Homo sapiens: one gene and its partners. The protein of the gene in region 1 purifies or fractionates together with the protein of each later gene. This does not show direct contact. Each region holds a gene or a part of one and is shown in the gene's direction. Other genes may lie near its edges.

The links. Proteins that work in one complex are often made in the same cells at the same time.
Region 2: the proteins of GAK (region 1) and PIK3C2A purify together in Homo sapiens (affinity purification with mass spectrometry; one large-scale study listed by BioGRID and IntAct). This does not show direct contact.
Region 3: the proteins of GAK (region 1) and BMP2K purify together in Homo sapiens (affinity purification with mass spectrometry; one large-scale study listed by BioGRID and IntAct). This does not show direct contact.
Region 4: the proteins of GAK (region 1) and XPR1 purify together in Homo sapiens (affinity purification with mass spectrometry; one large-scale study listed by BioGRID and IntAct). This does not show direct contact.

Annotation. Positions count from the first base shown.
Region 1 is NC_000004.12:890,817-894,316, reverse strand, and holds part of GAK (cyclin-G-associated kinase), read left to right. Parts: intron 1-307; coding exon 308-443; intron 444-827; coding exon 828-940; intron 941-3,500. UniProt on the Homo sapiens protein: Associates with cyclin G and CDK5. Seems to act as an auxilin homolog that is involved in the uncoating of clathrin-coated vesicles by Hsc70 in non-neuronal cells. Expression oscillates slightly during the cell cycle, peaking at G1.
Region 2 is NC_000011.10:17,162,987-17,166,486, reverse strand, and holds part of PIK3C2A (phosphatidylinositol 4-phosphate 3-kinase C2 domain-containing subunit alpha), read left to right. Parts: intron 1-3,500.
Region 3 is NC_000004.12:78,782,850-78,786,349, forward strand, and holds part of BMP2K (BMP-2-inducible protein kinase), read left to right. Parts: intron 1-3,500. UniProt on the Homo sapiens protein: May be involved in osteoblast differentiation.
Region 4 is NC_000001.11:180,824,022-180,827,521, forward strand, and holds part of XPR1 (solute carrier family 53 member 1), read left to right. Parts: intron 1-731; coding exon 732-922; intron 923-1,143; coding exon 1,144-1,323; intron 1,324-3,500. UniProt on the Homo sapiens protein: Inorganic ion transporter that mediates phosphate ion export across plasma membrane.

The DNA of each region.
Region 1 (3,500 bases):
ACTCCCCACAGGCCCAGGCGTCACCCCTGCGCTCCCCACGGCCCCAACGTCACCCCTGCGCTCCCCGCGGCCCGGGTGTCACCCCTGTTGTTCCCGCAGGCCCCGGTGTCACCCCTGCATTTCCCATGTTCCCGATATCACCCCTGTGTTCCCTGCAGTCCCCAGTGTCACCCCTGCGCTCCCCACGGCTCCGATGTCACCCCTGCATTCCCCGTGGGCCTGGGCATCACCCCTGCTCTCCCCGCAGGCCCAGGCGTCACCCCTGCGCTCCCCGTGGGCCTAGGCATCACCCCTGCTCTCCCCGCAGGCCCTGGGCTGCATCTTGTACCTGCTGTGCTTCCGGCAGCACCCTTTTGAGGATGGAGCGAAACTTCGAATAGTCAATGGGAAGTACTCGATCCCCCCGCACGACACGCAGTACACGGTCTTCCACAGCCTCATCCGTAAGTCCCGGTGGAATGCGTGCGTGGGGCAGGACCCTGGAGCACAGACCCCGCGTGGCTCTGGAGACCCCGCTCCCCTTGGGGCACTGCTCACCTGGCCCCACTCCCGCCCGTCACCATAGTTTTGACAACATCCCTGGGGGGGGGGTTTCCAGAGAGCTCCCCTGCCGCCCACCCCGCTGGTGAATTTGCGGTGCTCTGAGTGGTGATTTTTGATCATTTTGTTCGGTTTTTGTTCTTCCCTTTGCCGCTCCCTTCTTGCTTCTGACGTCACTGATGTGTGTAGAGGGAGTGGCCTCTGGTGGTCTGTGACCTCTGCCAGTGCAGGGGGTGCTGACCCGCCTGGGGAACCGTGGGGCCGAGCGCGCTGTGCTTCTGCTGCAGGCGCCATGCTGCAGGTGAACCCGGAGGAGCGGCTGTCCATCGCCGAGGTGGTGCACCAGCTGCAGGAGATCGCGGCCGCCCGCAACGTGAACCCCAAGTCTCCCATCACAGAGGTGAGGGAGGCACACGTGAGCCCCAAATCCCCCGCAGTGGTGAAGGAGGCACACATGAGCCCCAGATCCCCCGCAGAGGGGAGGGAGGCACATGTGAGCCCCAGATCCCCTGCAGAAGGGAGGGAGGCACACGTGAACCCTAAGTCTCCTATCACAGAGGGGAGGGAGGCACACGTGAGCCCCAGATCCCCCGCAGAGGGGAGGGAGGCACATGTGAACCCCAAGTCTCCTATCACAGAGGGGCGGGAGGCACACCTGAACCCCAAGTTTCCTATCACAGAGGGGAGGGAGGCACATGTGAGCCCCAAATCCCCCCACAGAGAGGAGGGTGGCATGTGGCTGTGCTGCTTCGTCCGGACCCTGCACCCTGGGGGTCTCTGCCCACTTCAGTGGGGAGCCACAAGCTCTTGAGGGCCCTGGGCTCCTGCAGGAGCAGGGTCACCACCGCAGCCCAGGGCCGAGACCCCGGGGGCATGCTGGGACCATTGCCAAGGTCTTCGCACTCTGCACGCGCTCCTCTGGCCTCCTTGAGGTTTGCAGGCGCCTTTCTAGATTCTTCCCCTGACAGGACAGCATGAATTGCTCCTGTGTCTTTGTTTCTGGGGTCTGGTGTCCAAGCCAGGTCAGCCAGCCCTCAGCTCTGGGCGTCCTGGGGTGTCCTGAGTTGCTCTGCGTCTGTGTTTCTGACCCTCAGCTCAGCTCTGGGCGTCCTGGTTGCAGTTGTGTCAGGGCTGGGCCTGGCCAGGGTCCACTCCCAGGCACCGGTGGCTGCTGGCAGCATCAGGGCCTGGGGGCTGGGAGACTGAGGCCCACAGGGCCGTGTGCTTTGTGGAAGTGTGAGGCCTGGGAGGGAGCAGCACGTGTTGGCTGGAAGATGCTTTCCTCAGAGTCTTTTCTGACCCAGCCGTGGACAGGGTGCAGCATCTCCATCACCAGATCCTCGAGGCAGAGCAGACACGCGGCCCGGCCCTCACCCACGGGGAGCAGGGAGGCCCCTGGGCATCCCAGCTCAGGGCCCAGTCAGGACACGCAGGGCCCCTCTGCAGATCTCGCAGGGGTCTGTGTCCAAGGACCCAGGACTCTTGGCTCCTGCATTTTGTCCCCTTTTCAGCCCTTGGGTCGTTTCCACTCCCTGGTAGCTGGAAGCCGGAACTTCCAGGGGCCACTGCAGTGGAGCTGACCCAGGCGGTGGGTGTGGAGCGTGGGGAGAAGGTCAGAGCTGCTGCCCGGAGTCCCTGTCTGAGGACAGGACCCTGTGGGACAAGGAAGGTTTGGGCTGTGTGGAGGGTTTGCAGTTCCTTGGGGGCCGCGTGGGTACAGAGACCTGGGAGCAGGGAAGTGCTGGGAAGCCCAGTGCAGACGGGGAGAGGCTGTGGTGCCCCTCTCTGGCGGCCATCATGGTGGGTGCACCAGCAGAGGGAGCCCTGGTGCTGGGTGCTGGAAGCATTTTGAGGTGTGGGGCGCTCTGAGGCGGGAGAGTTGATGTCACTGGTGGCCTCTCAGCAAGCTTCCCTGGGGCTGTCAGAGAGCGGCAGGAAGGGATCACTCCTGGGCCGTCCTGCTCTTTAGCAGCCTGGGCCTCGTGTCCCCCTCGCTTGGTGGCTCTTTACAGAAAATGCCTGCCCACTCCCCCGGAGGTCACAGAGGACAGTGGGCTCGCAGGGGGGTGTGGGCCTCTTGCTTTGTCGAGTGCGCTGGAGGGATTCTTGATGGGGCGGGAGGAGGTGCCGCTGGGCAGATGGGCAGAATCAGGCCCCTAGTGATGGGGCGGGGTCCTCAGTGCTTCTCATCTGAGTGCTTCTAGGCCGGGACCCCGTGGGGACAGACGTTAGACCCCTGCTTAAGCCAACCGACTCCCCCAGAAAACACAGTCCATGATGGAGCTGAGTTCACAATGAAATAAAATACTGCCCCCAGGAGGTAGTGAGCCTCACAGGGTGGCCCCCAGAACCCAGGAGCTGAAGTGATGGAACATCCTGGGACAGACAGGCCATGTGTCTGCTTAATATGGTTGGGCATGCGAGGTGGAGGCTGCAGTGAGCCCAGATCATGCCACTGCACTCCAGCCTGGGAGACAGAGTGAGACTCCGTTTCAAAAAAAAAAAAAAGAAAAAAAGCCTGGGTGCAGTGGCTCACGCCTGTAATCCTAGCACTTTGGGAAGCCGAGGCAGGCGAATTGCCTCAGCTCAGGAGTTCAAGACCAGCCTGGGCAACGTGGTGAAACCCCATCTCTACTAAAATACAAAACAAATTAGCCAGGCGTGGTGGCGCATGCCTGTAGTCCCAGCTACTCTGGGAGGCTGAGGCAGGAGAATTGCTTGAACTCATGAGGCGGAGGTTGCGGTGAGCTGAGATCGTGCCACAGCCCTCCAGCACTGCAGCCTGGGTCACAGAGCAAGACTCTGTCTCTACCAAAAAAAAAAAAAAAAATGTTGGTTGGACAGACTGGGAAGAGAGAGAAAAGGAAAAGGAACAGAAGCTGTAGCCCAAGAGTCTGAAAAGCTGGGCTGGAGTGCTGAGCACCTGCAACAGCCCCAAGCGAGGCAGGCCGCGGGGTGAG
Region 2 (3,500 bases), on another chromosome or scaffold:
CTGAGAGAAATAGATTATCCCAGCTAAGCTGATATTACCATTCCAGATGCAATGTAGTCATCATCTTAAGCAAGTTGAGGTTTCTGGGTAGGTGGGTTATTTACTGTCCAAAGCTCCAAGACTGGGATTCGGAACCCAAGAACTTACATGCTTTTTATCTATGTTGTACATACTCAAACCGAACTCTTTATTTATTATTATTTTTACCAATATGTTGCCAAAGCCAAAGGACTCTTCTGCATTTTTTTTTTAATCACTGAGACAGAAAGCTCACAAGAATCCTATGAGGCCAGAGTATGACCCATCCCTATTTTACAGTTGAGGAAACTGAGATGTAAAGAAGTTAAAAGGAATTACTGTTAATATTTTGGTGTAATAATGGTATTGCAATTAATTAAATGAATCTTATATTTAGAGATGTATACTGTAGAATTTAAAATGTAGTAAAATCAAGTGAGGTATTGGGGTTTGGAGGGCTTATAGATGAAACAAGATTGGCTATATGTTGATAATTGTTGAAGCCGATGATGGATACCTGGGTGTTTATTCTATTATTTACTTTGTGTATATTTGAAAATTTTCATGATAACAAGTTGGAGGTCAAGGAGAGGGCTGCAGAACTCTTTGCAAGCAGCAAAGTTCTGACATTCAAACCCATCTGACTCTAAAAGCCCTCCCTTTTTTTTTTTTTTTTTTTTTTTTTTCACTTTTTTGAGACAGTTTCTCTCTTGTTGCCCAGGCTGGAGTGCAATTGCGTGATCTCAGCTCACCGCAACCTCTGCCTGCTGGGTTCAAGCGATTCTATTGCCTCAGCCTCCCGAGTAGCTGGGATTACAGTCATGCACCACCACGACCGGCTAATTTTGTATTTTTAGTAGAGACGCGGTTTCTCCATGTTGGTCAGATTGGTCTCAAACTCCCGACCTCAGGTGATCTGCCTGCCTCAGCCTTCCAACGTGCTGGGATTACAGGCGTGAGCCACCAAGGTCTGCCAGCCCTCCCTTTTTCAAACTCCAGTGATACAACATGCTATTTTGGAAGGAGTAAGTTCCCTGTCATAGGAGATATTCAAATATGGTTCAAATGGCTTCCCAAATTTAGTTATATGTCACAGTATCCTAGAGAGTTTAGGCCTACTCAGTCCTGATTTGGAGGAAGGGGTGTCAAAGGACAGTATGGAATTTCAGGGGGAAGATAACCAGTTTTTTCAAAACTTTCCCCCTTGGACCTCCATTTGGGACCTCTTGACTAGGTTATTTTAAAGTTTATTCATACTCAGGAGCCTATAAAGTTGGGAAAATGACAAGACAAATAGCAAATGTGAAAATAGAGTACCCTGGGAACAGTTTCTTTTCAGCTCAAAACCCAAAGCACAGGTTGTTAATGCTTTCATTGCGAAACTCAACTTCCTGCCCCTGCTTGACCTTTTTAGTTTAGATTGGTCACTCCTAGTTCAACACATGTGTTCTCCACCCTTTCCTTTGGTGGGGCAGGGGTGTGACACCCATGTAAGTCTCCCTACATTTATTTTTTCTTATGTATTTAAAATATTTGTCACAGTACCATCTTGATATTTTCCTTATTTGGGGTGCTTTCAGAAAGTATCTTGGAGGAATAATGAGGATGGGTGGTTTCCTAAAGATAGGAAGAAGTTTGCCTAGCAAGATCTGGGTAATCAAGTCACATAGGTGTTACAGAGAGCTGCTAGTTGCTCAAACTCTAGGAATTAATTAACTAGGCTGCCAAACAGGATTAGTTTTAGCAGAAACAAGTTCCTAGATCTTAGTTAAAAAATATAGGGGAAGGATTAAAGTAGTAAGCAAATGGATTATGAGAGATATGAGTCAGAAACTGGGTAAGCAATAATATGACTTGATCAGGGGATCAATCAGAGAGTGGAGCTAGATTACTACAGTGTAGCATATCAACAGCTTTACTGATAGCATGCTATCTGAACTGACATGGCTTAGGCTACTTGCCAGTCTTAAGGCAGTCTAACTGCAGCATGGCTGAGGAAGTGTTCATCATTCCATTATACTCTAATCAAACCCCATCTAATAATTTTGTTTGAGTATATCCTAAGAGGGGCCACCAGTAAGGAAACTGAAGTTTGTCTTTTTTTTTTTTTTTTTTAAGACAGGGTCTCACACTGTTTTACCTAGGGTGGAGTGCAGCAGTGCGATCACGGCTCACTGTAGCCTCTACCTCCCATACTCAAGTGATTCTTCTAATGCAGCCTCCTGAGTGGCTGGGACTATAGGTACACGCCACCACACCCAGCTAATTTTTTTGGGTTTTGTGAAGATGAGGTCTCCCTGTGGTGTAAGCCATTGTGCCCAGCCTAGAGTATGTCTTGAAAAGAGAAGACTGTAGTTTTCAGGATCTAGAACGTATGCCATTTGAGGAACTGTTGGAGGCATTTTGTCTGAAGAAGAGAATATTAATTGGAGTTAAATCACTGAATCTGAGTTTCTTTATCTATGAAATAAAGTTGGCTAGACTAGATCCTTTCATAAATAATAGTTAAAATTTGGGAAGTTGCCATGTGGAAGAGGAAGTGGACTTTTTTTTTTTTTTTAAGGTTTTGTATTTTGGACATACATTTTCAAACCAATTCAGGAAGTAGAATACCTGAAAGTCATGGTGCTCTTATAAAACAGGATGAAATGTTGATATACTAATTTTTTCAGTACGTTAAATATATTAAGTATACTACTTTGTGTTACATTAGATGACAATCTGTGCTAGATTATAATAGAAACAACTGGTAGAATGGTGGGTTTGGTGGCTCATGCCTGTAAACCCAGTGCTTTGGGAGGCCGAGGTGGGAGGATTGCTTGAGGCCAAGAATTCGAGACCAATCTGGGGAATGTAGGGAGACCCGTGTCTATAGAAAAAAAAAATAGCTGTGTGTGGTGATGCACGCTGGGACTACAGCTATTCTGTAGTCCCAGCTACTCAAGAAGCTGCAGTAGGAGGATCTCAAGCCCAGGAGTTTGAGGCTGCAATGAGCTATGATGATAAGGCCCTTGTACTCCAGCCAAGGCTACAGAATGAGACCCTGTGTCTAAAAAACAAAGGAATAACTGATAGTAAGGGCTGAAAGTTAAAATACATTGCATAGAAAAACTTAAAATTAAACAAGTCCTATTTGTTTGTTTGTTTTTGTTTGTTTTTTTGAAACAGGGTCTCGCTCTGTCACCCAGGCTCTGGAGTGCAGTGGCGTGATCTCGGCACACTGCAACCTCCACCTCCCAGGTTCAAGTGATTCTCCTGGCTCAGCTTCCCGAGTAGCTGGGACTACAGGTGCATGCCACCATGCCCTGCTAATTTTTGTATTTTTAGTAGAGTTGGGGTTACACCATGTTGACTAGGCTGGTCTCGAGCTCCTGACCTCAAGTGATCCACCCGCCTCAGTCCCCCCAAGTGCTGGGATTATAGGCGTGGCCACCGTGCCTGGCCAAACAAGTCCTATTTGTTTATATATTTTTTTCTGTGAA
Region 3 (3,500 bases), about 78 Mb from region 1:
GCATTCAGTTGTCCAGTAGTACTTACTCAGCACCCTTTTTTGTTGTTGTTTAATTAAGCTCTTAGAAAACATTGTTTCCTCTTCTGAAACAAGGAGTTAATATCTATTATGAAGATTAGAGAAGATAATGTGTGACAGTACCTGACAGTGCATTGCCAAATCTCTTCATAACTATGAGTGAACTTTTAAGTTCCGATTTGGTTATACGCTTTCAGTGAAATCTGATTTGGAAATTATAGTGACTTTATTATATATTTGGTATCACATTTATCCTGAATAAGTATCACATTTGTGTTTGAAAAATATCTGAATAGTTTGTTAGATAATTATGTGTCCCTCAGCCATATTGAATTTTCAAGTTTCAATCAGCTATATAAAATTTTGACCTATATAGTAGCATATGATTTCACTATAAAATGGAAATTATTTGCAACAAAGGACACTATATACAATATTAACAAATGGTTCTTTTTTGGGTTGTTTATGTTATTATTGTAGTGATAGCTCCTAGGATGTAATTTTGATTGTCCGTTAATGTATTTCCTCTAGAGGTAGTAGTTTTATTCAAGGACAAGCTACTGACACTAAAACAATTATTCTAAATTTTCAGTATTCCAAAAAAACAGTGGAAATTTATAATGCATTTATCTCCAGTAAAGGTGCTAAATTGTACAGGATGGGCATGGTGGCTCACGCCTGTAATCCCAGCACTTTGGGAGGCTGAGACAGGTAGATCACTTGAGGCCAGGAGTTCGAGACCAGCCTGGCCAACAGGGTGAAACCCCATCTCTACTAAAAACACAAATATTAGCCGGGCATAGTGGCACGTGCCTATAATAACAGCTACTCATGAGGCTGAGGCAGGAGAATCCCTTGAGCCCAGGAGGCAGAGGTTGCAGTAAGGTGAGATAGAGCCATTGCACTCCAGCCTGGGTGACACAGCAAGACGCTGTCTCAAAATAAATAAATAAATAAATAAATAATAAATAAAAATAAAAGTGCTAAATTGTACAAACATGCCAAATATCTTTGCTTTTAGGCTGTAGTCAACTATTGTGGTTAATACTGACATTCTCATGCTGGGCAGATTGAAAAGGCTATGTCTTCGATATTTTAAAAATAATGAAAATGAATTAATATTTGTTAGTATGTTTCATCATGGGGTGCACAGTAGGGAAACTTGGAAAAGGTCCTTGATGTTGTCAATGTTAGAGAATGTACTAGAAAGTGAGACGGATGTCCTTATGTTGATCCTGGGTCTTATATAGTGTTCTTTCTGATCTTGTATATTATCTTGGTTTTCTTTCACCATTTCCCTCCTATTTTTTTGTCAGAACTTGAAGTAGTTTCATATACATCCAATAGAGCTCATTTGGTAGTTATCAAAATGATTAAAGCCTTGACTTGGGATTCCAAAGTTAAGAGTCTTGAACTACCATTTCAAAGCTGCCACACTTTTCTAGTGGTCGGGTATAATATTTCATCTCCAAAAGATTGGGACTGTTTATTCCTTTGTTTTATCTTGCATGCATCTGGTGAACCATTCATCTACCCACAGCCTGCTATTTTTAGGGGACTAAGTTGGGAAGTTGAGTGGTTAATGACTGAGCTGTTTTAAATAGCTGGGCACTTAGTTAATTTGGAGATTCTTTGTCTATGTGTATCAGCTTTACAAATGAGGTCAGTCAGCACATGTCTGCTAACTGTTTCAAAAGTCTCTCTCTGCAGGAAAGTGGTTGTAAGGCCTTTTCTACAGAGAGACTTTGTTTTTGGTTTATCCTAGTCTTGTAGAATTGCAGTAACATTAGAGGCATTTTGCAGTAAGTATTATTTTAAAATATGGAATGATTGTTGTTACTAGTTTGCCCATTTTAACATTTTTAATTATCTTTGAAATAGTGCCTTCTTGGACGCATCTATCGGGGAAAAATACCAGCTGGTAATCCCTGTTCTGCCTCTAACTTGCATTGTGACGTTTTGACTTCAGTTTCCTCAAGAAAAAAATGAAGTGGAAAAAATGAATTTGTAACATCTTTTTCCATTTTAGTATTCTTGGATTCTGTCTATGTAACTGATTTTAACTGCTCTTTTAGATAAATGAGGAGCATGGGACAGGGAGGAATAGCAATGAACAATTTCAGGATTGAGACCATAATGAAAGGATTGTGTTTGATCGTTATACAATTTGAGTTCTTTGACAGACTTCACAATGGAATGGCAATTTATTTTTTAATCCTAAAGTATGAAATTATTTTTATTTTATTTTATTTTATTTTTTCAAGACGGAGTCTTGCTCTGTTGCCCAGGCTGGAGTGCAGTGCTGCAGTTGTGGTTCACTGCAACCTCTGCCTCCTGGGTTCAAGTGATTCTCCTGCCTCAGCCTCCCAAGTAGCTGGGATTACAGGTTCTTGCCACCACACCTGGCTAATTTTTGTATTTTTAGTAGAGACAGGGCTTCACCGTGTTGGCCAGGCTGGTTTCTTAACTTCTGACCTCAGGTGATCTGCCCACCTTGGCTTCCCAAAGTGCTGGGATTACAGTCATGAGCCACTGCGCCCGGCCTAAAATTATTTTTTAATCATTGGAAAAAGGTCTTTTCTAAGAAGTTGCCTTACATGCTAGTCCTTGAGATCCGGGTAGAAGCTCAAATTAAATTGTGTGACATTTCAGAATACTATTTAGTTTCAGTGGGCATGCCACCTTAATTGCTTATTTTACTATCTTGATTGTGTTCTCTAAGAGACTCATGCACAATATATGTATTTTAGAGAGTATTAGTAACAAAACAAAACCTTTTTATTCAAAAAGAATATATGAGGAGGAGGTATGACAGTACTTTCTCTGATGAAGTTTACAGATACAAAGTTTACCCTTGATATGTGTGGGAAATTGGGTACCTTTTGTTTCCAATGCTGTCAGCCCTAATTTGGGTCCTTAATACATCTCGTTTAGAGAATTATATTAGCATTTGGACTGTTCTTTCAGACTCTTTCCTTGCCAAACCAATTCTTGTATTCCTTCCAGTTTATTCTTCCTAAAATGGACTTATGCTCATGTCACTCTCTTACTTGCCTAACCAAGTAAAGTACAAACTCGTTACTCTAGGATTCAGGACCCCCTGACCTGAACCTCCAGTTCAGTATGACCTCCAACCTACCTCTCCAGCCTTAATCTCTTACTCTTACTCCCTACTTATATTACACTGATGTGCTTGGTATTTTCTGCACTTCTCTCAAGCTTTCTGCTATCGTCTGAATGTTTGTGACTCCTCCCGCAATTCATATGTTGAAATCCCAACGCCCAAGGTGATGCTATTTAGTGATGGGGCCCTTGGGAAATGATTGGGTCATGAGAGCCCTCATGAATGGAATTAATGCCCTTATAAAAGAGGCCCCAGAGAGATCCCTCATCCCTTGCACTACATAAGGTTAGAGTGAGAAGATGGCCATCTGTGAGGAAACAAGCCCTCTCCAGGCACTGAATTTCCCAGCACCTTGCTC
Region 4 (3,500 bases), on another chromosome or scaffold:
ACTCTGTGAGGTAGATATTACTATATCCAGTTTAATAATGGAGTAAATGAAGCCAAAGAGAGGTTTTGTCATGCCGGATCCCCAAATGACAGAACTGATCACATGATTCTAAGCCACTTCACCATGATTCTTTGTAATCTAAAAAACTAATAGAACAATGGGATGACATGCTGAAAGTCAAGTTTTGGGAAATTATTCTAGTGACATTCTGCAGAGTAAAATGAAGACGAGAAAGAACCCACAGGCGACTTTTTAAGGCTCTTAAAATAATCTAGGTTTGGCCAGGCGGGGTGGTTCATGCCTGTAATCCCAACACTTTGGGAGGCCAAGGTGGGTGGATCACGAGGTCAGGAGATGAAGACAATCCTGGCCAACATGGTGAAACCCTGTCTGTACTAAAAATACAACAATTAGCTGGGCGTGGTGGTGCGTGCCTGTAATCCCAGTTACTCGGGAGACTGAGGCAGGAGAATCGCTTGAACCAGGGAGTCGGAGGTTGCAGTGAGCCGAGATCACGCCATTGCACTCCAGCCTGGCAACAGGGTGAGACTGTCTCAAAAAAATAAATAGGTAGATAGATAGATAGATAGATGATAGATAATCTAGGTTTAGGTTTTATTTATGAAAAATTTCTATGCCAGGGCTATATCATTGAGAATGAAGACAAAAGATTATTAATTCAAGGGAAGTTATGAATTTTATAACTGACCAATATCTTAATATTCTTTCAGCTGTATTTAAACTTGAAACAGATAGAAGTATATGGCCCTTGATAAGAATCTATCGGGGTGGCTTTCTTCTGATTGAATTCCTTTTTCTACTGGGCATCAACACGTATGGTTGGAGACAGGCTGGAGTAAACCATGTACTCATCTTTGAACTTAATCCGAGAAGCAATTTGTCTCATCAACATCTCTTTGAGGTAATCAAAGCAAGACATAACACCTCATGAATATAGTTTGCATTAGCTATATAGCTATCTGGTTTAGTGGGTACTTAAATCCATCCTCTACTTGAAGAGGATTATTAGCTTAATAACTAATCATGTTTCTTACTTTTGTTTTATTAAAGATATTTTAAGTAATGGTAAAAGTAAAAATAACAATTTTTCTCTATCTTTCTGTCTTCCCCATCCTTTACTAGATTGCTGGATTCCTCGGGATATTGTGGTGCCTGAGCCTTCTGGCATGCTTCTTTGCTCCAATTAGTGTCATCCCCACATATGTGTATCCACTTGCCCTTTATGGATTTATGGTTTTCTTCCTTATCAACCCCACCAAAACTTTCTACTATAAATCCCGGTTTTGGCTGCTTAAACTGCTGGTAAGTCCAGAAACTTGTGTACCACTTTTAGAGTGGCATATTGGTTATTGACTTCCTCTAAGATAAAACCAAGGCTGCTAGGTTGTACAACTGCAGAGGCCGTGGTTCACATTATAGTTTATGTGAGTGGAGGCCCTGGGAAAAAGTACTCACGTATATTTTCCTCCTGAGATCGAGTATCAGGTGGCCAAATATTGAGATGATTTTGTAAATTATAAACATTTTTTACTTCGTTTAACTAGCTGTGATAAGATGTAGAACTTTGTAAGTTTCCTTCCCCCAAAAAAATGTGGTAAAAGAATTATTTTCCTGTTAAGTTGATGTGAGTATCAACCGAACATTTTATTTTAGGAAAGATTTGTTCTCTAAAAGCAGTAGGAATATCTTACCAGATTATCAAGTTTAATTTGAAAAATTGACTTTGGGCTGGGCGCGGTGGCTCACGCCTGTAATCCTAGCACTTTAGGAAGCCAAGGCGGGTGGATCATCTGAGGTCAGGAGTTTGAGACCAGCCTGACCAACATGGTGAAACCCCGTCTCTACTAAAAATACAAAATTAGCTGGGGGTGGTGGCCCATGCCTGTAATCCTAGCTACTAGGGAGGCTGAGGCAGGAGAATCGCTAGAACCCCAGAGGTGGAAGTTGCAGTGAGCCGCGATTGTGCCATTGCATTCCAGCCTGGGCAACAAGAGCAAAACTCCATCTCAAAAAAAAGAAAAAGAAAAATTGACTTTGATTCTTGTTTATAATAAGTTCTTTTTTTCTTCCACTTTACCTGTCTCTTAATGATCTCAAAATCATTTAGCCTCAGCAGTGAAATAAAATTTCCTGCAAAACTGTAAAGCTTTCTTCTGTAAAGATAACTCCGGAAGGGGACTTCTGTTTACTTGTAAATTGAGCCAGCTCTTTTTGAAAATCATTTGAGGCCAGGTACAGTCGCTCATGCCTATAATCCCAGTATTCGGGAGGCTGAGGTGAGTGGATCCCTTGAGCCCAGGAGTTTCAGACCAGCCTGGGCAACATGGTGTAAACCCTGTTTACAAAAATTAAAAAATTAGCTGGGTGTGATGGTGCACACCTGTAGTCCCAGATACTTGTGACGCTCAGGTGAGAGGATTGCTTGAGCCAGGAACGTCAAAGCTGCAGTGAACCATGTTAGTGCCGCTACACTCCCAGCCTGGGCAACAGACTGAGACCCTATCTCTAAAGGAAAAAACAAAGAAAGAAACAAAGAAAGTAAATCAATTGAGAAAACTTTCATATGATTATTTCTTAGGTTATGAATTACAGCTAACAATAAAGATTAGTGATTAAATTGACCAATCTCTATAAAAACTTTCAGAATTGCTCTATTTTCTCACCTCTTTTTCACTTTATAAGTATACGTCCTTGAAAACTGCAGTTCCTATTGTTTTTCTTTTGTATGCCCCTTATGTTAGCAAAGGTTTTTTTGTTCTTAGCCAAACATAACAATTTTTTTTTAATCTGAAGACATAAAATATGGCTTTCTATTAAGAAAAACTGTAGAACCAGGTGCAGTGGCTCACGCCTGTCGTCCCAGCACTTTGGGAGGCCGAGGTGGGTGGATCACCTGAAGTCCGGAGTTCAAGACCAGCCTGGCTAACATGGCAAAACCCCATCTCTACCAAAAATATAAAAATTAGCCGAGTGAGGTGGCACGTGCCTGTAATCCCAGCTACTCAGGAGGCTGAGGCAGGAGAATCGCTTGAACCCAGGAAGTGGAAGTTGCAGTGAGCCAAGATGGTGCTGCTGCACTCCAGCCTGGACGACAGAGTGAGACTCCTTCTCAAAAAAAAAAAAAAAAAAAAAAAAGGGGGTCTCCTTTGTTGCCCAGGCTTGTCTCAAACCTCCTGGCTTCAAGTGTTCCTCCCGCCTTGGCCTCCCAAAGTGCTGGGATTACAGGCATGAGCCACTGTGCCTGGCCATAAAATTATTTTTAAATGAGACTTTGGAAGATTCAGAAAACTCAGGTTTTACTATGATTACGTAATTACAGTAACAGGATAATATAGTTGTGTACATTGTGTGCTAAGTGGGCATTTCCCCAGTGTATCCTTTGTTTAAATAGCAAGCTGTGATTCATGCATGACTAGTTACTCCTATTAGCAGAATGATTGCCCATTGAGTAGATATTTATTTGTGCATCTGCTGTGTTT